Regions from separate parts of the Homo sapiens genome. Here all the other regions are linked to region 2. Evidence: fine-mapped expression QTL. A gene starts in region 2. Each other region holds a variant in brackets. All regions are shown on one strand. Distances are from middle to middle.

Region 1 (8,173 bases), 73 kb before region 2:
TAACCTTTCTCTCCTGCCCTTACCTGCTCTCCTTTATCCTTAGGCAGCCACCTATCTGTTTTGGCACTATAGATTAGTTTGCATTTTCTAAAGTTTTATGTAAGTGGAATTATACAATATGTACTGTGCTTTCTTTCATGCAACATAATCATTTTGGGTTTCACCCAAGTTGTTTCATGTGTCAGTAATTTTCTTGTACAAGTCTTTGTATATGCTTTTTTTTTTAATGACAGAGTCTCACTCTGTCACCCAGGCTAGAGTGCAGTGGGGCGATCTCGGCTCATTGCAACCTCTGCCTCCTGGGTTCAAGCAGTTCTCTGCATCAGCCTCCCAAGTAGCTGAGATTACAAGTGTGCCCCCCTGCCCCCCACGCCCGGCTAAGTTTTCTATTTTTAGTAGAGACAGGGTTTCACCATCTTGGCCAGGCTGGTCTTGAGCTCCTGACCTCATGATCCACCCGCCTTAGCCTCCCGAAGTGCTGGGATTACAGGCCTGAGCCACGGCTCCCAGGCTGTATATGCTTTCATTTCTCTTCAGTAAATTACCTAAGTGTAAGATACCAGTAGTATGGCCATATCAAACTGTAGGTATATGCTTAACTTTTAAGAAATTGCTGGCCGGGTGGAGTGGCTCACGCCTGTAATCCCAGCACTTTGGGAGGCTGAGGCGGGAGGATCACAAGGTCAAGAGATTGAGACCATCCTGGCCAACATGGTGAAACCCCGTCTCTACTAAAAATACAAAAATTAGCTAGGCGTGGTGGCACATGCCTGTAATCTCAGCTATTCAGGAGGCTGAGGCAGGAGAATCACTTGAACTCAGGAGGCGGAGGTTGCAGTGAGCCGAGATCAGGCCACTGCACTCCAGCCTTGGGACAGAGCAAGGCTCGGTCTCAAAAAAAAAAAAAAAAAGAAAAGAAAAAAAGAAATTGCCAAACTGTTTTCCAAACTACTTGTACCATTACATTCCCATCATCAGTGCATGAAAGTTCCAGTTCCTCCATATCCTTGCCAACATTTGGCACAGCCAGTCTTTTCAATCTTTTAGTTATTCTAAGGTTTGTAGTGCTTACTGTGGCTTTAATTTGCATTTCCCTAGTGACTAATGGTGTGAAGCATTTTTCATGAGTTTGCCATTTGTACACCTCCTATGGTGAAGTAACTGTACAAATCTTTTGGCCATTTTTATGTTTAAAGTTGATTAAATAATTTTGTAAACTGACAAAGAAAAATGGTATATATTTAGGTTGTACAACATGTTTTTTTTTGTTTTGAGATGGAGTCTCACTCTGTCGCCCAGGCTGGAGTGCAGTGGCATGATCTCAGCTCACTGCAACCTCTGCCTCCCGGGTTCAAGTTCATTCTCCTGCCTCAGCCTCCTGAGCAGCTGGGATTACAGGTGACCACCACCATGCCCGGCTAACTTTTGTATTTTTAGTAGAGACGGGGTTTCACCATATTGGTCAGGCTGGTCTCGAACTCCTGACCTCGTGATCCACCTGCCTTGGCCTCCCAAAGTGCTAGGATTACAGGCATGAGCCACAGTGCCTGGCATTTTTTTTTTTTTTTTTTTGAGATGGAGTTTTGCTCTTGTTGCCCAGGCTGGAGTGCAATGGCGCAATCTCAGCTCACCGCAACCTCTACCTCCTGGATTCAAGTGATTCTCCTGCGTCAGCCTCCCAAGTAGCTGGGATTACAGGCATGCACCACCATGCCCGGCTAATTTGTTTTTTTTGTTTTTTTTTTTTTTGTATTTTTAGTAGAAACAGGGTTTCTCCATGTTGGTCAGGCTGGTCTCGAACTCCCAACCTCAGGTGATCTGCTCATCTCGGCCTCCCAAAGTGGTGGGATTACAGGCGTGAGCCACTGTGCCTGGCCAACATGTGTTTTTAAAATGTGTATACATTGTGGAATGGCCAAGTTGAGACAACTGACACAGGCATTACCTCATATTCTTATTACTTTTTTTGTGGTAGATCACTTAAAATCTACTTTCTTGGCAATTTTCAAGTACCTTTTGGCTACTTTTAAAATGGTGTAGTTTTTTTTTTTTTTTTTTGAGACGGAGTCTCTGTCGCCAGGCTGGAGTACAGTGGCATGACCTTGGCTCACTGAAACCTCAACTCCCAGGTTCAAGCGATTCTCCTGCCTCAGCCTCCCAAGTAGCTGGGATTCCAGGCATGCACCACCACACTCAGCTACTTTTTGTATTTTTGGTAGAGACGGGATTTCACCATGTTGGCTAGGATGGTCTCGATCTCCTGACCTCATGATCCGTCTGCCTCGGTTCCCAAAGTGCTGGGATTACAGGCATGAGCCAATGTGCCTGGCCCAAAATGGTGTAGGTTTTTTTTTTTTTTTTTTTTTTCCTGAGACAGGGTCTCGCTCTGCCGTCCAGGCTGGAATGCAGTGGTGCGATCTTGGCTCACGGCAAGCTCCACCTCCCTGGTTCTCGCCATTCTCCTGCCTCAGCCTCCAGAGTAGCTGGGACTTACAGGTGCCCACCACCATGCTCAGCTAATTTCTTTTGTATTTTTAGTAGAGACGGAGTTTCACCATGTTAGCCAGGTTGGTCTCGATCTCCTGACCTTGTGATCCGCCCACCTGGGCCTCCCAAAGTGCTGGGATTACAGGCGTGAGCCACCGCGCCTGGCCTAAAATGGTGTAGTTTTTAATCCTTTATCAGATATATGCTTTGCAAATATTTTCTCCTAGTCTGTGGTTTATCTTTATATTCTCTTATTTGCATTTTTGTAAGAGACTGGGTCTCACTACACTGCCCAGGCTGGCCTCGAAGTGCTGAGCTCAAAGGATCCTCCCACCTCAGTCTCCTGAGTAGCTGGGTTTACAGGCGTGTACCACTGTACCTGGCTTATTGGCACTTTTGAAGAGCAGTTCAGTTTATCTATTTGCTCTTTTATGGTTTACGCTTTTAATATCATATAGGAAATCTTTGCTTAATTCAAGGTAGAAAAAAATTTCTCCAGTGTTTTCTTCCAAGAGTTTTATAATGTTGTTTTCAATGGTCTTTGATTCATTTTGAGTTATTTTTTGTATGTGGTAAAAGGTATGAATTAAGGTTCAATTTTTCTTTTTGCATATGGATATTCAGTTGCTCCAGTACCATTGTTGAAAAGACTATACATTCTCCACTGCATTGCCTTTGTGCTTTTTAAATACATCAACTATCTAGATATGCATAGGAATATTTCTGGATTTTTTTTCTGTTCCTTTTAT[T/C]TATCTGTCTCAGCTCTATGCCAATTACCATGCCGTTGAAACATCTTTTAATTTAAACATATAAATACATGCCAGGCATGGTGGCTCATGCCTGTAATCCCAGCACTTTGGGAGGCTGAGGCGGGTGGATCACTTGAGGTCAGGAGTTCGAGACCAGCTTGGCCAACATGGTGAAACTCCATAACTACTGAAAATAAAAAAATTAGCTGAGCATGGTGTTGCATGCCTGCAATCCCAGCTACTCGGGAGGCTAAGGCAGGAGAATCGCTTGAACCTGGGAAGCGGAGGTTGCAGTGAGCCAAGATCGTGCTACTGCACTCCAGCCTGGGCAACAGGGTGAGGCTCCATCTAAAAAAAAAAAAAAAAAAAAAAAACCCACAGAAAACTCCCCACAAAACACATCTTAAAGCCAGTTCTACATGCCCCAAGGTAAAGGGGAATACTGATGATAATTATAAAGCATTCTTAGTTTGGGAGTCCTATAATCACTTAACATCTCTGACAAATATCACACTTAATATTATGCAGTTTATTATTTTAATAAGTTATTTACAGTAAAAGGCATTCTGGACACTTTATATAAATTTTAGTATTAGATGACTTAAACTACACTTCACTAAAGGCTCCTGCAAGATTCTATGTATTACATCATTAGAAATGAGATGCTAATCTCTTCCTAGCTCTTCCCTAAACAGGCCCCTACCATTGTCTTTCCCGTCTTAGTTAATGTGAACTCATTCTCCCGGTTTTTCAGGCCCAGACCTTGGAGCCATGCTTGATTCCACTTTCCCACATCCTTAACTACTCCATTAGCAAATCAGGTCAACCCTATGACACAATATATTCAGATTCCTTCTACATCCACAGCTATCACCCGGCTCAAACCACCACCACCTTGCACCTGCATTATTCTTACAGCTTCCCAACTGGTTCCCTATCTAATTATGTCAGAGACAGAATTCTTTTTTTTTCCTTTTGCCCTCTCAACCCAGCTTTTCCCAACTTTGGGAAATCTGGGAAGAGAAAGCCTAAGAGACAGAATTCTTAGGTAGAAGACAAAAAATAACAATTCTGATATTTACAATAAAAATGGCACTAACAATCCCAGCACTTTAAAGAGAAAGTGCATTCACTCACAAATGAGATGGTTGCCTGAAAAAGAACCCTCCTTTCATCTGTTGATAAGCAGCACCTACTGTTCTTTATAAAGCACCTACCTCCCCTCAAAAAAGCTATTACAGCTTGCCATGGGTAAAAAACATTAATTAAAAAAGAAAAAAAAAGTTAAAATTGAGAGGTAACAGTAGCAACTTTTAACTTTAGGAAAACATTATTTTGTTATAAATGGACCCTCAATTTTTAACAAAGGTAACAAGACAATTCAATGGGGGACTAATTAATCTTTGCAACAAAGGTGCTAGGACAAGTGGTTTTTTGTTTGTCTGTTTGTTTGTTTGTTTGTTTCTTTTTTTGGAGACAGGGTCTCACTCTGTAGCGCAGGCTGGAGTGCAGTGGTGTATCATAGCTCACTGCAGCCTTGATCTCCGGGACTCAAGCAATCCTCCCGCCATAGCCTCCCAAGTAGCTAAGACTACAGGCATGCACCACCATGCCCATTTAATTTTGTTTTGTTTTTGTGTATTTTTTGTAGAGATGAGGTCTCACTATGTTGCCCAGGCTGGTCTTGAACTCCTGAGCTCAAACAATCCTCCCATGTTGGCCTCCCAAAGTGCTGGGATTACAGGCATGAGTCACTGCACTGGGCCCGACAAGGGATATTGACACTCAAAAGAATCAATTTGCACACTTTCCTCACAACACGCAACAAATTAACTCAAAATGGATCAAAGACCTAAATGTAAGAGCTAAAATTTTATGAGAAGAAAATGCAGGAGTTAATTTTAGTGACCTTCGGTTAGGCAATGATTTTTACACCATTGATAACACCATCAAAATTGCAAGCGGTAAAAGACAAACACATAAATTGGAATTTATCAAAATTAAAAACTTGTGTTTCAAATGACATCAAAAAAGTGAATAGACAACCCACAGATTGGTGAAAACATATGTAGATCACATATCTGATTTTAGATTTGTATCTAGAACAAAGAACTCTTACTACTCAATGACAAGGCAAATAACCTAATTGAAAAATGACCAGACATATCTCCAAAGAAGACATACAAATGACCAACAAGCACAATAAAAGATGCTCAACACTATCAGTTATCAGGGAAATGCAAATCAAATCAGAATGAAATACCACCTCACATCCACTAGAATAACTATAATAAAAAAAGACAATAACAGGTATTAGTAAGAATGTGAATAAATCAGAACTGTCATATATTTTAATGTCAAAATTACTAGTGGGAATATAAAAATGATGCAGCCACTTTGGAAAAGAGTTTAGCAGTTTCTCAAAATGTTAAACAGGGAGTTACCATATGATCCAGCAATTCCACTCCTAGGTATAGACCCAGGAGAAATTAAAACATATGTCCATACAAAAATGCATACATGAATGTTCATAGCAGCATTATTCATAATAGCCAAAAAACAGAAACAGCCCAGATGTCCAACTGGTGAATACACAAAATGTGGTATATCCATACAACGGGATATTATTTCATAATAAAAAGGAATGGAGTATTGATACATTCTATAATATGAATAAATCTTGAAAACATTATGCTAAAGAAGCCAGATTTAAGAGCCCTCATATTGTATAATGCTATTTACATAAAATATCCAGAATAGACAAATTTATATAGACAGAAAGTAGATGATGGCCAGTAGCGACACATGCCTAAAACCTCAGTACTTTGAGAGGCCAAGGCAGGGGGCATGCTGCAGGCCAGGAGTGCGAGACCAACCTGGTTAACATGAGACCCTGTCTCTACATTAAAAAAAAAAAAAAAAAAAAAAAAGGAAAGTAGATTAGTGGTTGCCTAAGGCTGGAGATGAGAAAAGGAAAACTGAATGCTAACAGGCATGAGATTTTTTAAGGGTGATGAACATTTTTTTTTTTTTGAGATAGGGTCTCACTCTGTTGCCCAAGCTGGAGTGTAGTGGCACAATCTCGGCTCACTGCAACCTCTGCCTTCTAGGTTCAAGCGATTCTCCTGCCTCAGCCTCCTAAGTAGCTGGGACTCTAGGTGCGCACCACCATGCCCTGCTAAATTTTGTATGTTTTTGGTAGAGACGAGGCTTCACTGTGTTGGCCAGGCTGGTCTCAAACTCCTGGCCTCAAGTGGTCCACTCGCCTCAGCCTCCCAAAGTGCTGGGATTACAGGCATGAGCCACACATGGCCCAGGTGATGCAAATATTCTAAGATTAGATTGTTGGGATGGCTGTAAAGCTATGTAAATATACTCAAAACCATTGAATGATATACTTAAAATGGGTAAATTTTACGATATGCCACTTACATCTCAGTAAAGCTTTTTAAAAAAATGAATCCTCAGACTAGCAACACTATAAATATATCCATTGAAAATAATTACAAGATCAGACAACCTTCATGAAATAGGTTTCTACTCATGATTCATTAAACAAATAATAATAATAAGAATGATGTTTTTTGTTTGTTTGTTTTGAGACAGAGTCTCCTTCTGTTGCCCAAGCTGGAGTGCAGTGGCACAATCTCCGCTCATTACAACTTTCACTTTCCAGGTTCAAGCAATTCTTGTGCCTCAGCCTCCCAAGTAGCTGGGATTACAGGTGTGTGCCACCATACCCAGCTAACTTTTTTTTTTTTTTTTTGTATTTTTAGTAGAGACGAGATTTTTGCCACGTTAACCCAGGTTGGTCTCAAACTCCTGGCCTCAAGTGATCTGCTCACCTCAGCCTCCCAAAGCGCTGGGATTACAGGCATGAGCCATCGCATCCAGCCGTAAACAAATAATTATTGAGCTCTACTACATATCATAGCATCTATAACTCAGCCAAAGTTCTGGCTGGGCATAACCTAATTTTAAAAGGGCAGTACTGTGCCAAAGGGCAAAACATACAGGGTTGACCATGGCACCAAGTCATTGTTCAATTACCTTCAAATGCATTCAACAATGACCCAAAGCATCCAGACTAGATGTGTAAGGAAACACTCTATTTAGCTTGGAACTTCAGTGGTAAATATCTTAGTACAATGAAATAAATACCTTCTCTGTGAGTCATCCACTCTTTCATCTGATAATTACTATTATTTTTTGAGACGGAGTCTTGCTCTGTCACCAGGCTGAAGTGCAGTGGCGCGATCACTACAACCTCCACCTCCCGAGTTCCAGCGATTCTCCTGCCTCAGTCTCCTGAGTAGCTGGGACTACAGGCACGCGCCACCATGGCCAGCTAATTTTTGTATTTTCAGTAGAGACGGGTTTCACCATGTTGGCCAGGATAGTCTCGATCTCCTAACCTCGTGATGTGTCTGCCTCAGCCTTCCAAAGTGCTGGGATTACAGGCATGAGCCAACACACCCAGCCTTCATCTGATAATTATTAAACGCTTAGAATGGGCAGAGCCTCTAACTAGAACCTATCTCTCAGATATAAAAGTGCAGAATGAATCCCTGCCCTGCAGAAGCTTGCACATCTAATCATAATTTGCTTATTTATTTCTTCTTTTCCTTTTTTTTTTTTTTTTTTTTGAGACAGGGTCTTGCTCTGTCATCCAGGCTGGAGTGCAGTGGTGCAATCATAGCTCACTGTGGCCTCAAACTTCTAGTTTCAAGTGATCCTCCTGCCTCAGCTTCCCAAGTAGCTGGGATTACAGGTACACACCAGTGCATCTGGCTAATTTTTATTTTTATTTTATATTTTTTGAGACAGAGTCTTGCTCTGTCACCCAGGCTGGAGTGCAGTGGCGTGATCTCGGCTCACTGCAACCTCTGCCTCCTGAGTTCAAGCGATTCTTCTGCCTCAGCCTCCCGAGTAGCTGG
Region 2 (8,189 bases):
AGGTATTTGATAAATGTTTGCATAACTGAATTGAGTTCCAAGATTATGGATTGGTGAACTAATGCCAGCAGCTACTGATATCAACTGGAAATTTAGGCAGGATATAAACTTTTAAAATGGTAAAGGAGACATAAAAATCCAAGGATCCGGAAACTATATTTATTTACCTGTACACTCTTTGTAAATCAGACGCTAAGACTCCAATGTCCACATATTTGCCACATTTGTTACTGGTAAGGTACTAAAACAGAAAATATAACAAATACAAAACACCCAATATTTCAAACTCAGTGATTTTAATCAACAGATTGAGCTATCTGAACACATTATACTTTAAGATAAACTCTTCGTTAATAAAGTGTACCAGAAACATAAATAAAAGTAACCAAATAATTGTCAAATATGAAATCAGAAAATTTAATTAACATTATTAATCACTATAATACAATACTAATAATTATCAGAATAGTTATAAGGCAGTAAGTGAGGGCTTACTTACTAATATCCTAGGTTTCCAAACACCCCAGAACACTGCAGTAAACTCATAAGGGTAGGAGGGGATATTTTAAACTTCAAGGAACACAGTGATATTTGACATCTGTCAGATACTGCAGAACTACTAGCTTGAGGCAATTTAGTTTCAATATTAAATCACCTTTTGGCTGGGCATGGTGGCTCATATCTGTAATCCCAACACTTTGGGAGCCCAGGAGTTTGAGACCACCCTGGGCAACAAAGTTTGACCTCATCTCTACAAAAAAATTAAAAAGTTGGTTGGATGTGGTGGCTTGTGCTTATACTCCCAGCATTTTGGGAGGCCAAGGTGGGAGATCGCTTAAGCCCAGACTTAGAGGTTGCAGTGAGCTATGATCGAGCCACTGCACTCCAGCCTGGATAACAGAACGAGACCTTATCTCAAAAATAAATACATAAATAAGCCCGGGCGTGGTGGCTCACACCCGTAATCCCAGCACTTTGAGAGGCCAAGGCGGGAGGATTGCTTCAGTCCAGGTGTTCGAGACCAGCCTGGGCAAGGTGGTAAGATCTCATCTCTACAAAAAATTTTAAAATTAGCCAGACATGGTGGTGCATACCTGTGGTCCCAGCTACATGGGAGGCTGAGGTGGGAGAATCACTTGACCCCACGAGTTTGAGATGGCAGTGAGCAGTGTTCACACCACTGCACTCCAGCCTGGGTGACAGAGCTAGACCCAGTCTCAAAAATAAAAAATTAAAATTAAATTAAATATATAGCTAAGTGAAAATTTATTTAAAATATTGTGTAAGACTATCTTCAGGCTATGTGTGTAAGGTGTATATGAAACATAAATAAACTTCATGTTTAACTTGGGTCCCATCCCCAAATATCTCATTATGTATATGCAAACATTCCAAAACCTGAAAAAAATCAATCTGAAACATTTTTTGGTCTTAAGCATTTAGAATAAGGGATATTCATTTGTACTTTTATAATGAACCAAAGTGAAAGCTATAGAGGAAAACTGATAATGTCAAACGCTGAAAAGAGTCAAGTGTGAGGACAGAGAAGAGGCCACTAGATCCAGTAATTAGGAGTCACTGCTCAGAAACCTCAATAAAGTGAAGGAGCAAGTTGTGGGACGCGGGAACATCCAGAGGAAGAGTAATTCAGAGTGACTGAACAACGAGAACAAAGGTCCTGTGCTTGGCATGTTTGAGAAGGTCTGTGTGGCTGGGACAGGAGAGGAAAAGTAAACTAGGACAACAGAGGCCAGAATATGCAGGGCTTTTCAGACTGGGTTTTACTCTAGATGTCTGTGACTCCACTGAAAGGTTTTGAGCAGGGCTATGGCAAGCTCTGATTTCCCCCCCCTTTTTTTTAGTTATACTTTAAGTTCTGGGATACATGTGCAGAACATGCGGGTTTGTTACATAGGTATACAGGTGCCATGGTGGTTTCCTGCACCCATCAACCCGTCATCTACATTAGGTATTTTTCCTAATGCTATCCCTCCCCTAGCCCGATTTTTCCCTTTAAAAGGATGTCTTGGCCACGCCTGTAATCCCAGCACTTTGGGAGGCTGAGGCGGGCAGATCACCTGAGGTCAGGAGTTCGAGACTAGCCTGGCCAACATGGTGAAATCCCATCCCTACTAAAAATACAAAAAGTAGCCAGGCGTGATGGCATGCACTTGTAATCCCACGTACTCGGGAGGCTGAGGCAGGAGAATCACTTGAACCCAGGAGGCAGAGGTTGCAGTGAGCAGAAAAAAAAAAAAAAATTAGATGTCTCTGGCTGCTCTGTGGGGAATAGGCTTTAGGTAAAAGCAGAATCAGAGAGATCAGTTAGGAGGCTATTGTAATAGTATAAGGTAGAGATGATGGTTTGGACTAAGATGGTTACAGGGAAAGACAGTAAGAAGTACTTGGAATATATTTTGAAAGTAAAGCCAACCAGGCTGTTGACAGATGGTATACAGGAAATGAAAGACTCAGAATGATCCTTAAGGTTTTTGGCCTTAACAACAGGACGAACGGTAGTATCATTTACTGAGATACAGAACACTAAGAAAGGGCAGATTTGAAGGAAGAAAAAAATCACAAATTCCACTTGGCCATTTTAATTTGGAGATATGCTGACTAGGCAGCTGGATATATCAATCTGTACTTCAAGATAAAATCTGGACTGGAGATATAAAGTTAGCAGTCATAAATATACAGAGGCCAGTGCAGCAGCTTGCACCGGTAATCCCAGCACTTTGGGAGGCTGAGGCCCGATCGCTTGAGCCCAGGAGTTAGAGACCAGCCAGAGTAACATAGTGGAACCCCGTCTCTACAAATAATAATAATAATAATAAATTAGCCAGGTGTGGTGGTGCACACCTGTAGTCCCAGCTACTGGGGAGGCTGAGGAGGGAGGATCACTTGAGTCAGGGAGGCCGAGGGTGCAGTGAGTTATGATTGTGCCCATAAACAGCCACTGCACTCTAGCCTGGGCAACAGAGCGAGACTATGTCTCAGAAAAATAAAAATAAAATGAAATAAATACATAGATAATAGAGTATGTAGATACTACTCAAAGGTTATTACACTAAATGAGATCACATAGGAAGTATGGATAGATAAGAAAGGTGTATGAGGAAAGAGGAGGAAGGGGAGGTAAGAGAACAGTGGCACAGAGCACTTCCAACATTTACAAGTTGGTAGGAAAAGATGGGTCCGAAAAGGAGATTGTTTAGGGGCTGGTGAAGTGAAAGAAAAACAAGGAGAATGTGTAGCTCACAAATTCCTAAGTGAAGAAAATTCTCTCCCACCTTTTAACTCAGACTGCTTGCTTACATTCTGAGGTATTTGCCACACACTGCTTTTTACTGATGGTCATGAAAATGAGAAAACCGTAGGCAAAGTGCCTGTTACTGTTGCCAGACCCATGTTATCTCGTTTTAGTGTGTAAGTTCCTTGAGAACGGAAATTAACATATTATTTATGCCACCCCTTCTCAAGGACCTCTTACAATGCGAGCGTTTGAAGACCATTCCTGTGCTAACTTCACAAGCCAAAGAGGTTAAAATTCAAAGGCTACCTCCACTCTACTGAATGATCTGCGCTGAAGACGACCAGACAACTTGGGCAGCCCTACCAAGCTGCACCCTCCCACCATCCCCGGCTTCTCCCTGAGACTCCGCACCAACGTGGGTAGGGAAGGCCCCGGCAGCACCAACTAAGGAGAAACAGACGCACGCCCAGACCCAGACTGGGGAAAGAAGACTAGTTGAGTTCCACCTGGATGCCACCCGACAAAAGGGGAGTGGCACCCTGGGGCAGCGATCGGGGCCCTTGGCGAGGCCAAGCGGTGCAGAATACACACCTGGATGACTCGCTGCTTGAGTTTATTATCCACGAACCCTGCAGGTCTGGGCTTCATCGCGTCGGTCTTCCAAGCCACAGCTCGGACCGCCAGCTCCTAGTCAACCGGGGGCCTCGTAGGGGTTGCCCGCCGCGATCGCCGGGCCAGTTGCACCTGAAATGCGCCCCTCCTGGGGCCTAGCCCGCGCCGTTTCCGTCAGAATAAAAGTAATGCGAATGAAGGGGAAAAAATTCCGAGGAGAGGGAGAAGACTTGAAAACCTCAGGGAGTTTCTAGGGGCCTTATTTTGCAGGCCTGCCCAGTGGACCCTGGAAGATTAGGACCCCTTTGAACGCGCTCAACTTTATTGGTTCCCCGCCGGGCGAACCAGGTGGGAGGAAGTTCCTACCCCGGCGCGGTGTGCGGAGACGCTGTCAACGGCGTCCTCTGGAAAACTTGGTTTGCTTTCCTCAGGCGTTCCAGCCACACCTCATTCTGATACAAAGCTAGTCTTCGCAAAACCAGCCACGGTAGATACTTGGAGTGATAAAATCAGGGTAAAAACACACCACCAGCCGCTGCTTGCTTTCCCACGTAGTTATCTTACATTTTAGAGGCCCGACAAAAGGGCTAGGTGAAAAAGAAAAGGAAGGACGGATTTATCCAGATAACTAAGTCATTTGTTACTTTTAGAACTCGTTTGACTTACGCTGTTATCATCGGCAGGTAATTTGTTGAATATATCCAGTGCAGGACTCCTTGGCCCAGAATTTTATCAAACGTTTGTATTTGCCCCAAGAAGTTTATCCTGCACTTAGGGAGACACAAAGGGACAGTTACCAAGCATTAAAAAAAAAATGCTGGCTTTAGTTTCTGTCTTCTTGTTTATTTCAACCGTGTTTTGAGTATTCTTATTTCAGGTCCTCCTTGGCTTATGACAAGGTTAAGTGCAGTGTATTAAGGGGCAGAGGGGAGAGAAAATGGAATTAAGAGAAGGGCGTGAGGCCGGGCACGGTGGCTCACACCTGTAATCCCAGCACTTTGGGAGGCCGAGGCGGGCAGATCACTTGAGGTCAGGAGTTCACGACCAGCCTGGCCAACATGGTGAAACCTTGTCTCTACTAAAAATATAAAAATTAGCACTGAATTAAGTATTAGATTTCCCACTCAAAATATTGATCCGTTTGGTTGCAACTTCATTTCCTACTTCTTCACTATGTGTAGTTTTATTTTTTATTTTTTTAGTTGTAAAATATAAGAACATTCACCATCTTAAACATTTTAAAGTGTGCAGTTTAGTGATAATACATTCATAATATGCAACCATCACTGCCATCTAGTTCCAGAACTCTTTTCATCTTGTACAACTAAAACTCTATACTAATTAAAAAATAACTCCCCATTCCTCCCTCCCCCCAGCCCCTGGCAACTACCATTCTACTTACTGTCTTTATGATTTTGACTACACTAACTTCCTCATATAAGTGGAATCTTCCAGTATTTGACTTTTGTGACTGGCTTGTTTCTTAGCTTAATGCCCTCATATAGCATGTGTTAGAATTTCCTTCTTTCTTTTCTTTTTTTTTTTTTTTTTTTTTTGATACAGAGTCTTGCTCTGTTGCCCAGGCTGGAGTGCAGTGGCGCAATCTCAGCTCACTGCAACCTTCGCCTCCTGGGTTCAAGAGATTCTACCACCTCAGCCTCCCAAGTAGTTGGGACTACAGGTGTGTACCACCACACCCGGCTAATTTTTTGTATTTTTAGTAGAAATGGCGTTTTGCCATGTTGGCCAGGCTGATCTCCAACTCCTGACCTGAGGTGATCCACCTGCCTTGGCCTCCCAAAGTGCTGGGATTACAGGTATAAGCCACCGCACCTGGCCTTTCCTTCACTTTTAAGGCTGAATAAAATTTGGCTCTTTTGTTGCCATTCTGCCTTTTGCCATGGGATGACACAGCAAGAAGGCCCTCACCAAATAACAACTCCTTGATATTGGACTTTCCAGCCTTCTTGCATTCATTCAACAAGTGTTTATTGAGTGCCTACCAGTTTCAGTCTCTGCTCTGCGCTTTAGGCTTGTGGGGAAAAGTGGAAGAATTATAACTAACTTTTTATAACATTTAAAAAATTTGATTAGGTATTTATGTGCTTGATTAAATGTTAGCAAAGATTCCCTACAGCATATAGTACAAATGTAGTCAATGCTCAGTAATTTTTAAAATGAAATGTAATTCTGTGCATGCCAAATGTCCAACATAGAATGAAAACACACTGAGGCCAGGCATGGTGGCTCATGCCTATACTACCAGCACTTTGGGAGGCAGAGGCAGGTGGATCACCTGAGGTCAGGAGTTCAAGACTAGCCTGACCAATGTGGTGAAACCCTGTCTCTATTAAAAATACAAAATTATCCGGGTGTGGTGGCCCATGCCTGTAATCCTAGCTACTTGGGAGGCTGAGGCAGGAGAATCACTTGAACCTGGGAGGCAGAGGTTGCAGTGAGCTGAGATTGCGCCATTGCACTCTAGCCTGGGCAACAAGAGCAAAACTCCATCTCAAAAAAACGAACAAATAAACAACCACATTGAAAGGCCTAGTAGTATCATGACATGTACTAGGCAATATAGTTTATTAGTCTATAATTTGTCATAGAATACTATCCTACACTTAGGGTTGACTTCATGGGTATGTGACCTCTGCAGTCACACAGGGCCCTGTGCTCAGAAGGGCCCCACAGGTGGTTTAATGCTGTACTGTTGCCATCTTGAAATGCTTTCTGAATAAGCTGTCCCTTATTTTCATTTTGCACTGGGTCTTACAAATTATGTAACCAGCCATTCATATGTAAACTTGAAGTACTCTAGAATGCTGCCTTCTTCTTCTTTTTCTTCTTTTTTTTTTTAGGTGGAGTCTCACTATATTGCCAGGCTAGAGTGCAGTGGTACGATCTTGGCTCACTGTAACCTCCGCCTCCCGGGTTCAAGCGATTCTTCTGCCTCAGCCTCCCAAGTAGCTGGGACTCCAGGTGCATGCCACCATGCCCAGCTAATTTTTGTATTTTTAGTAGAGACAGGGTTTCACCATATTGGCCAGGCTCGTCTTGAACTCCTGACCTCGTGATTCGCCTGTCTCGGCCTCTCAAAGTGCTGGGATTACAGGCATGAGCCACTGCACCCAGCCACCTCCTTCTTAAAGGCAGGGAATGTGTTGTTCATCTCACTACTGCTTCAGGTGCAGAAGGCAATAATTGAAAGTGAATTAATACTAGATGATAATATGCTTGAACATTTCTCGTTGGAATTATTTCATCAATTATTGCCCTGAAGACCATTTTACATTGATTCCAATGTTTGGATTTACAATATCATGCATCAAAACCAAAAAGATTACTGAACAGTAACCTAAGTGCATATACACTTTAAGCACTTCCTTTTTTAATTGAAGCATCCTCCATTCTTTGGTGGTGTAACCCCACCTAGTGGTAGTGGCGTATTTTATCTTTTGTCTTTCACACTTTCTCCTAAACCTCATACAGTATTTCACAAGCAAACAGCTTCTGGTCTAATTGTGCTTCATAACTAGGGTGATTTATGTCCAGATTTGCTCAGGACAGTCCTGATTTTTGATTCAGCAAAATTATTGCTAGTATCCCCTTTGTGGAAATACATGAAGACCAAATACATAAGAAGAGGTGAAGACTATTTGTTCAGAGTTTGCTATAACAAGGGAGTCAGCCACCATCACTTGTGTTTTGGCAGAGCCTCAAAGACAGGCAGAGGAGTGGGAAAACTTTATGGTGGGGAATAGGGGAAGGCTTCAGGTACGCCCTAACTGAAGACTGTTGTCATAGGGAAGCTATAGGTGGGCTAAATAGAACTAGCAGAGCATCCTATGTGTTTGGTTGGGATGCACAGTTGGTTTTCTTTTTGGTCCTATGTTGACAGCAGGTCCAAAAATTAGAAAAGCTATCATTTATTAATAAAGTTTTTGCCATCTGGGGCCGTTTGTTACAGGGGTTGTTGCTGGGTTCCTGGATTGTTTGCTAGTGATAGTGATCTAACTTCCTACATGTCTGACTTGTAGATGATATATTGGTTTTCTGGTCTGGTTGCTGCAGATTGTGAGTCAGAGTTCTATTTTTGCATTTGGTCTGGCCATTTTTCATTCACATGTTCAGTGTCTTCCTTTTATCTCTCAAAAAGGTTCTAGTTTGGACAATGTATGACCACTCTATGTATAGTAGGAACATGGAGAAAAAGATGAAGTTTGCATGTCAGAGGATCCTTACTGAGATGCAAAAATGAGGCTTCCTGCTTGCTGGGAGCTGGAGACTGAGTTCTGTTCTGTTATGTTCTTTTCTTTTC
Region 3 (8,189 bases), 92 kb before region 2:
AAAGAGTTTGAGTTTGGGGATAAAAACATCACTTCTATGATTCACAAGTCTTGGAAAGAAAAGATGAAAATGAAAAATAAATTTTTTTAAAAAACCTCATCTCTGGACATTAAACTTATTATATAATGTTGATAATCCCCATACTATATAACTTTTTTTTTTTTGAGATGGAGTCTTGCTCTGTCACCGAGGCTGGAGTGCAGTGGTGTGATCTTGGCTCACCGCAACCTCTGCGTCCTGGGTATGAGTGATTCTCCTGCCTCAGACACATACTATATAAAAGTAAAGACCCACAGAGCTTAAATTTTTAACTGAATCTGGTGTTTTGTTGGCTAAATGTTAGGGTTATAACATTATTTAATAATCACATACCTGCTGGGGTATTCATTCCTTCCCATACTATGAAATCTAACATTGGTGGAAACACCATTAACTAACACAAGCAGATAGCTATAGACTGTAGTGGTGTAGTGTCTCTCAAACTGTAATTATAGTGGCATGAAAATCCAAAATGTACACCATTCAACTTTAGCCCTAACCCCTTCACAGACTGATAGCCTACTTGGTATATCCAAAAGATTTAGCCCAGGGCAAGTTCCGCCACCAAAATCACCTGTTACTCACCGAAAATCTTTTCAGATTTGAGCACTTAAAGCTGTATTATTATTATTTTTTTTGTAGAGATGGGGTCTTACTATGTTGCCCAAGCTGGTCTTGAACTCCTGGCCTCAAACAATCTGCCTGCCTTGGCCTCCCAAAGGGCTAGGATTACAGGTGTGAGCCACTGCTCCCACCCTTAAAGCAGTAAACTACTCAAGTAGTAGTCTCCTAAGCATAAGGCCATTTCTTTATTTTTAATTTTATTTATTTTTATTTTTTGAGATGGAGTGTCGCTCTGTTGCCCAGCCTGGAGTGCAGTGACACGATCTCAGCTCACTGCAACCTCCACCCGCTGGGTTCAAGCAATTTTCCTGTCTCAGCCTCCCTAGTAGCTGCGATTACAGGTGTGCACTACCATGCCCGGCTAATTTTTGTAGTTTTAGTAGAGACAAGGTTTCACCATGTTGGCCAGGTTGGTCTCAAATTTCTGACCTCAAGTGATCTGCCCACCTCAGCCTCCAAAGTGCTGGGATTACAGGCGTGAGCCACTGTGCCTGGCCACATCATTTAAATAAAGACTCGTATGGATTTGATTCCTAATTAGGGGGTGAGGCACATCCTATTTAAGGGGAGGTAGAGGCATTTACATCTGCCCCTCACCACCCCTGCCTGAGACTCTGATCAGTTTCTCTTCACTGAGAATCACTGCTACATTGGAAGGACATAATAGAGAAAAAAAAAGGGCCGGGTGTGGTGGCTCACTGTAATCCCAGCACTTTGGGATGCTGAGGCATGAGGGACTACTTAAGCTCAGGAGTTCATGACAAGACTGGGCAATATGGCGAGACCCTAAAACTACAAAAATTTTTTAAAAAAATTAGCTGGGGATGGTAGCATGCACCTGTAGTCCCAGCTATCCAGGAGGCTGAGGTCAGAGGATTGCTTGAGCCCAGGAAGTCAAGGCTACAGTGAGCCATGATCATGCCACTGTACTCCAGCCTGGGTGAAAGAGGGAAACCCTGTATGGAAAAAAAAAAAAGAAAAAAAAGAAAACAAAAAGCCGGAGGGGGCATTGTCTCTGTTAGTTAAACTTGAGTTTCATTTCCTCCCTCTGTGTCCCCAAATTGGGAAAGTTAACAAACAAATTTACTTCAAAACATATGAAGAAAAACTAATAACTGTAACAACACAAACATAGGAAGGATGAAGGCAGAAATGTCAGATTTCCTGATGTTACTACAGGCTATGTGGAGGTGAAAATGCATCCTGAGGGCTGCAAAATGTGGCACTTGTAGATTAGTCTCTTTTAAATGCTGACGCACCAGTACAATTTGTAAAGGACAGCAGTGCTGGTTAGGGTAGGTTAAGTACCAAGAGTCAACATATGAAAGGACTCCCCTGTTCCCAGGAATTCCTTCAGGGCCTCCAAATGTGCAGTCTCTTCTCTAAGAAGGGAGATGCCAGACACTTTATGTGCTTCATGGGATACCTCATTTAATCCTCCCAACAATCTGCTGAGGTGAGCATCATCACCCCTCATTTTATAGATGAGGAAATTGAACCCCAGAGAGTGAATTGACTTAAGATTTAAACACTTACGTATAGCAATCACAGCGAAGGTCACCAGCAATTGCTTCCAAATTTACATCTGCATCCAGTGGTGGTTTGGTACCATTCTAAGTAAGAGAGAAAAATGATTTTTCATTGGAGCTTTAAAGACCATGCCGGGTGCGATGGCTCATGCTTGTAATCCCAGCACTTTGGGAGGCCAAGGTGGGCAGATCACCTGAGGTCAGGAGTTCGAGACCAACCTGTGGAACATGGTAAAACCCCATCTCTACTACAAATACAAAAATTAGCTGGGCGTTATGGTATGCACCTGTAGTCCCAGCTACTCGGGAGGCTGAGGCACGAGAATTGCTCAAGCCCTGGAGGTGGAGGTTGTAGTGAGCAGAGATCATGCCACTGCACTCCAGCCTGGGCGACAGAGTGAGACTGAGTCTCAAAGATAAAGACCATATTCATCTACATAATAGGTTCTTAATAATGGCTGTTTGACTAAATGAGTATAACTGACTTCCAGACTGGTGCTGTTAAGGTTTATACAAATTTCAATGTTGAGAAATGAGGCTAAGAAGCAGATTCCAAACTTGAGAAAGCTAAAGGCAAACAATTTATGCTCATGAAGTTTGAGGAATTTGTGTACAGCTGCAGCAAATACTAAACACCATCAACAAGAATGAAAACTAGCACCTCGATCTTTCCAAAGGTGAAGAAACACATTTCCTTTCCAGCTTAAACATGGCAAATACTTAAGCAATGCTTAGTGTTGGTGTGAGGCTGGCTAGGACGGAAGAAATAATACTGAACCTGGCCAGGAGAGAAGGAGCAGTATCTGCTCTAAAATAAAAGCACAAAGCACTCTAAGCTCAGTATATTCTTTCTTAATCATTTAGCTAACACTCAATCTTGATTTTGGTGCCAATTCCCCTTCAGCTCATTTCAAGACACATTAGCAATGACAAGTATGTAACTTAGAACTCTTAGAATTTCTCATGAGACTGGATGTAGAGGAAAAAAAACCAACCCAGAATTTTAACACTTAACCCAGTAACTTGCATGCATACATTATGTTTAATAATATTTTTAGTGACAAACTGCAGAGGCAAACAAAACAAGCTTTTTCTTCCCTCCAGGGTATTGCTCTGTCGCCCAGGCAGGAGTGAGTGGAACAACCACAACAGACTTGACCTCCTCGGCACAAGAGATCCTTCTACCTCAGCCTCCCGAGGAGCTGGAACTACATGCCACCATGCCTGGCTACTTTTTTTTTTTTTTGAGACAGTCTCGCTCTGGAGTGCAGTGGTGCGATCTTGGCTCACTGCAACCTCTGTCTCCTAGGAGCGATGGGGTGGCGTGTGCCTGTAATCCCAGCTACTCGGGACACTGAGGCAGGAGAATCACTGGAACCCGGGAGGTGGAGGCTGTAGTAAGCCATGATCGCACCATTGCACTCCAGCCTGGGTGACAGTTGGAGAGTTGGAGACTTGGT[TTCAAAAAAA/T]AAAAAAAAAAAAAAAAAGAAGAAACACACACAAAAGTGAATAAACACAAGCCATTAAGCTTTTCTCTTTTCTTTTTTTTTCTTTGAGACAGGGTCTGGCTCTGTCATCCAGGCTTAGTGCAATGGCGCAATCTCAGCTTACTGCAACCTCCACCTCCCGGGCTCAAGCCATCCTCCCACCTCAGCCTCTTGGGTAGCTGGGACTATAGGCACCCACCACACACCTGGCTAATTTTTGTATTTTTTGTAGAGATGGGGTTTCACGATGTTGCCCAGGCTGATCTCAAACTCCTCAGCTCAAGCGATCTGCCCGCCTTGGCCACCCGAAGTGCTGAGATTACAGGTGAGGGCCACAGCACCTGCCCAGTAAGCTTTTCTTAGTGTAAAACGTCAGCCTGGCAAAGTGCTCCAGGCACAGGGTTCGGCGACCTGGCTGAGAGGACTGGAGCTGCCGGCCTTGTGCACTAGTTACCTGTTGCTCTGCCCACACTCACATACCAGCGTCTCACTGCCTCCCAGCAGGGCATGTTCAAGAACTGCATAAATTATACATCTGTTAGTTGCTATCACTAAATAAAATGGACATGTTATCTACCACAGGTTCAAGAAACAGTTAATTTCCCATTCAATCCATTTTGACCTGGGACACAAACTATGATCTTAGGCAAACAATCTTGTGCTTTTTTCTCTAAGTAATAAAACTAAAGGGTCAGAATGTAGGATTGCTAAGCATCTTTTAGTGTAAACAATTTTCAACCGAGTCAGGATAGTGGTCAATCCTGGGGGCAGGTAGAAGTGGGTAGTGGCTGGAAGTAGAAGGGCAGCTTTTGTCGGTGTGGGAATGTTCTATTTTATTGTGGCAAAACATACAAAAAACTGACCATTTCAACCATTTTTCTGTGTACAGGTCAGTGGCATTAAGTCCATCCACATTGTTGTATCACCCCTATCCGGCTCCAGAACTCTTTTATCTTCCCAAAGAAAACAATGCATCCATTAAACACTAACTCCCCATTCTTCCTGCCCCCGCCTCCCAACCTCTGGCAGTCACCATTGTACTTCATAGTTCTATGAATTAGACTTGGAGTGTTCTCTTTCTTGATCTGGAGACTTTGTAACAATTCATGGAGCTGGACATTTACCACTTTTTAATTTCTTTCTTGAATCTCTAAATCTACTTTACATTTACCACTTTTCTGTAGGTGTATCATACTTCAATAAAAAGACCTAAACAGTGCAAGTAACACTGGGCGAGGAATTAGAAAACCTGAGTTCTAAAGTTCAAATTTGCAACTGAATGGCCCTTATAGAACTTTGTTAATCTTTATTATTTAATTTTTTAAAGTATCTTAATAGATAAGTATCTTATTTCCAGATGAGTATATATAATTTTGTGCTATATTTGAGAGGGGAGGGGGGCATCAGTGAACATATAATAGTGATTTCTTAAAATGAAGACTAGCGTAGACTTTCTTGCTATGGTGGTGGGGCTGCCACATTATGTAGGAGCCCTTGTTAGGTGCTTTCTATGATTTTAAGAACCTATCAACTTACCTCGACTGTCACACTGTCACATTAACTGTACGGATCTTCCCTAAGGACACTCCGCGTGCTGTTAGACAATCTAATCTCAAACTATCCAGTGCCCTGTTTTAATCAAAAGCTGAATCATAAGAAGACAATTCTTTTATACTTCTCAATATCTAAATTCTACCCTTGGGTTAAGCTGGACCTCCACAAGGTCCTGTGCATCCTCAGAGTGCATTTCTTGGACCTTCATCAAATTGTATTTAATGAACTGGCTTTGTGTAATACCCTCAGTTTATATTAAGAAAATGACAAGCCTCAGTCCCAAGAGGCTTATTGTGTTTGTGTCAGAAATACCGTTAAAGACATTGTGCATCGCATCTTAGTGTTCTCTTTGTGAGGACCCAGAGGAGGAATTTTTCTTTTTTCTGTCTCGCTGTGTCACCAGGCTGGAGTGCAGTGACGCAATCTCGGCTCACTGCAACTTACGCCTCCCAGGTTCAAGCGATTCTCCTGCCTCAGCCCCGAGTAGCTGGGATTACAGGCATGCGCTACCACGCTGGGTAATTTTTTTTTTTTTTTTTTTTTTGAGACGGAGTCTCACTGTCACAGGCCCAGGCTGGAGTGCAGTGGTGCGATCTCAGCTCACTGCAACCTCCGCCCCTCAGGTTCAAGCGATTCTCCTGCCTCAGCCCCCCAAGTAGCTGGGATTACAGTTGCCCGCCACCACGCCTGGCTAATTTTTTGTATTTTTAGTAGAGATGGGGTTTCACCATGTTGTCCAGGCTGGTCTTGAACTTCTGACCTCAGGTGATCCACCCACCTTGGCCTCCCAAAGTGCTAGGATTACAGGCGTGAGCCACCGTGCCCAGCCAACGCTGGGTAGTTTTTGTATTTTAGTAGAGACGGGGTTTCACCATGTTGGTCAGGCTGGTCTCAAACTCCTGACCTTGTGATCTGCCCGCCTCCGCCTCCCAAAGTGCTGGGATTACAGGCGTGAGCCACAGCGCCCAGCAGAGGAGGAATTTTCCTCACATTTGCATAATGGGAGCAATTGTCAGCTTCCTATTCTTAGCATATCCTTTGTTTAAGAAAAATCTTTTGTGAAAGAAAGCTCAGTATATAAAGGAACACAATAAATAAATGAGGTGGGGTATGAACTTCACAAAACGAATTCACTGTTATATGTTTAGATACTCTCAGAAGTTTCCTAATTCTTAGAAGATTAAACCTTTAGAAAAAGAAATAATTTCAAGTACCCTCACTTGAAAGAAAGTAACAAACTGTCCTTTTTTTTTTTTTTTTTTTTTTTTTGAGACAGAGTCTCGCCCTGTGGCCCAGGCTGGAGTGTGATGGCATGATCTCGGCTCACTGCAAGCTCCGCCTCCCGGGTTCAAGAGATTCTCCTGCCTCAGCTTCCCAAGTAGCTGGGATTACAGATGTACACCACCATACCCGGCTAATTTTTTGTATGTTTAGTAGAGATGGGTTTCACCATGTTGGCCAGGCTGGTCTCAAACTCCTGACCTGGTGATCCACCCACCTTGGCCTCCCAAAGTGCTGGGATTACAGGCACAAGCTACCACGCTCAGCCAAACTCTCCTTTTTTTGAGGGCATGAGGTGTGCTCTACCTAGGATACCTCCAAAAGTTTCATTAGCAACATTACTTTCTAATTAGTAGAAATAAGGGCTAAGGAATCTTTGGATCACTGAAATCTAACTATTCTTTAATTGAAATGTGGTTATGTTTCTGACTTATAGTAAGAACTAAAATGAATTCTATTTATTCTCAAGTGAGAGCAAAGAGAAAAATTTTAAATGGCATAATAAAGAGCTTATAAAACAAAATATGAGGATTTTGGAAAATCATTTATTGAAATGGTACTAGGATATTTAGAAGTATTTAGAAGCTTAAATTAATTTGGTTTTTCTTTATGACATTATCTCTATTACGATAATATTATATTATTTTTTAATAAAGGCCCTAATGGAAATCTCAAATAGGTTGGTAACTATAGAAAGCTAAGCTAAAGGAATTATTAGAAAAAGAAGGAAAATAGTCTCTTAAGGAAATTATAGGCCAGGCGTGGTGGCTCATGCCTGTAATCTCAGCACTTTGGGAGGCCGAGGCGGGTGGATCACCTGAGGTCAGGAGTTTGAGACTAGCCTGGCCAATATGGTGAAACACCATCTCTACTAAAAATACAAAACTTAGCCAGGTGTGGTGGCAGTTGCCTGTAATCCCAGCTACTTGGGACACTGAGGCAGGAGAATCGCTTGAACCCGGGAAGAGGAGGTTGCAGTGAGCTGAGATCAAACCACTGCACTCCAGCCTAGGGAACAAGAGTGAGACCTCGTCTCAAAAAAAAAAAAATAAAAAGAAAAAGAAAAACAGGTGTGGTGGCAGGCACCTGTAATCCCAGCTACTTAGGAGGCTCAGGCAGGAGAATCACTTGAACCTGGGAGGCAGAGGTTGCAGTGAGCCAAGACCACGCCATTGCACTCTAGCCTGGACATCAAGACCAAAACTCCGTCTCAAAAAAAAAAAAAGTTATATCCCACAAATATTGTATGATTCTACTTGTATGAGGTACCTAGAATAGGCAAAGCATAGAGACAGAAAGTAGAATGGTGGTTGCCAGGGGTAGGGAAGAAGGAATGGGCAGTTTGTGTTTAATGGGGACAGAGTTTCAGTTTGGGAAGATGCAAAAGTTCTGGAGATGAGTAGTGGTGATGGTTGCACAACAATGTGAATGTACTTAATGCCACAGAAATATATACTTAAAAATGGCTAAAATGGTAAATTTTATGTTATGTATCTATAGTATTTTACTAAAATCTGAAAAAAGTTATGGCTCATTTACACTGATATTTTCCTATAATTCGTATTAAACATTATATGTTATGAAATACTCAGGTTCAAAAAGTAATTCAAGATGTGCTACTACTTTTATTTTAACAAATATTTTCATTTGGTCATACAAATCTATTCTTTTTTTT

The links. PIP is the estimated chance that this variant, and not a neighbour inherited with it, causes the effect.
Region 1: its variant is the best candidate, but not a certain one, in a credible set for the expression of NVL in transverse colon (GTEx, PIP 0.73).
Region 3: its variant is the best candidate, but not a certain one, in a credible set for the expression of NVL in B cells (Schmiedel 2018, PIP 0.74).

What each region holds. Positions count from the first base shown.
Region 1 is chr1:224,252,838-224,261,010 of GRCh38, forward strand. The region is part of intron 18 of NVL (nuclear VCP like); the gene reads right to left. It overlaps MIR320B2 (microRNA 320b-2), which reads right to left and starts at 4,273; the gene lies at 4,203-4,273. RefSeq lists an enhancer at 1,873-2,798 and a silencer at 3,910-4,204. The variant T/C (reference allele first, on the strand shown) is at 3,237.
Region 2 is chr1:224,326,224-224,334,412 of GRCh38, forward strand. NVL (nuclear VCP like) reads right to left here and starts at 3,949. Exons shown (of 23, transcript NM_002533.4): 1 at 3,848-3,949; 2 at 168-241. The coding sequence starts at 3,904. RefSeq lists enhancers at 3,517-3,656, 3,707-3,756, 3,947-3,996, 4,017-4,166, 7,824-8,118.
Region 3 is chr1:224,234,307-224,242,495 of GRCh38, forward strand. NVL (nuclear VCP like) reads right to left here. Exons shown (of 23, transcript NM_002533.4): 20 at 2,200-2,276. Among named protein-coding and RNA genes, the nearest start is that of MIR320B2, 19 kb to the right of the region's middle. The variant TTCAAAAAAA/T (reference allele first, on the strand shown) is at 3,653.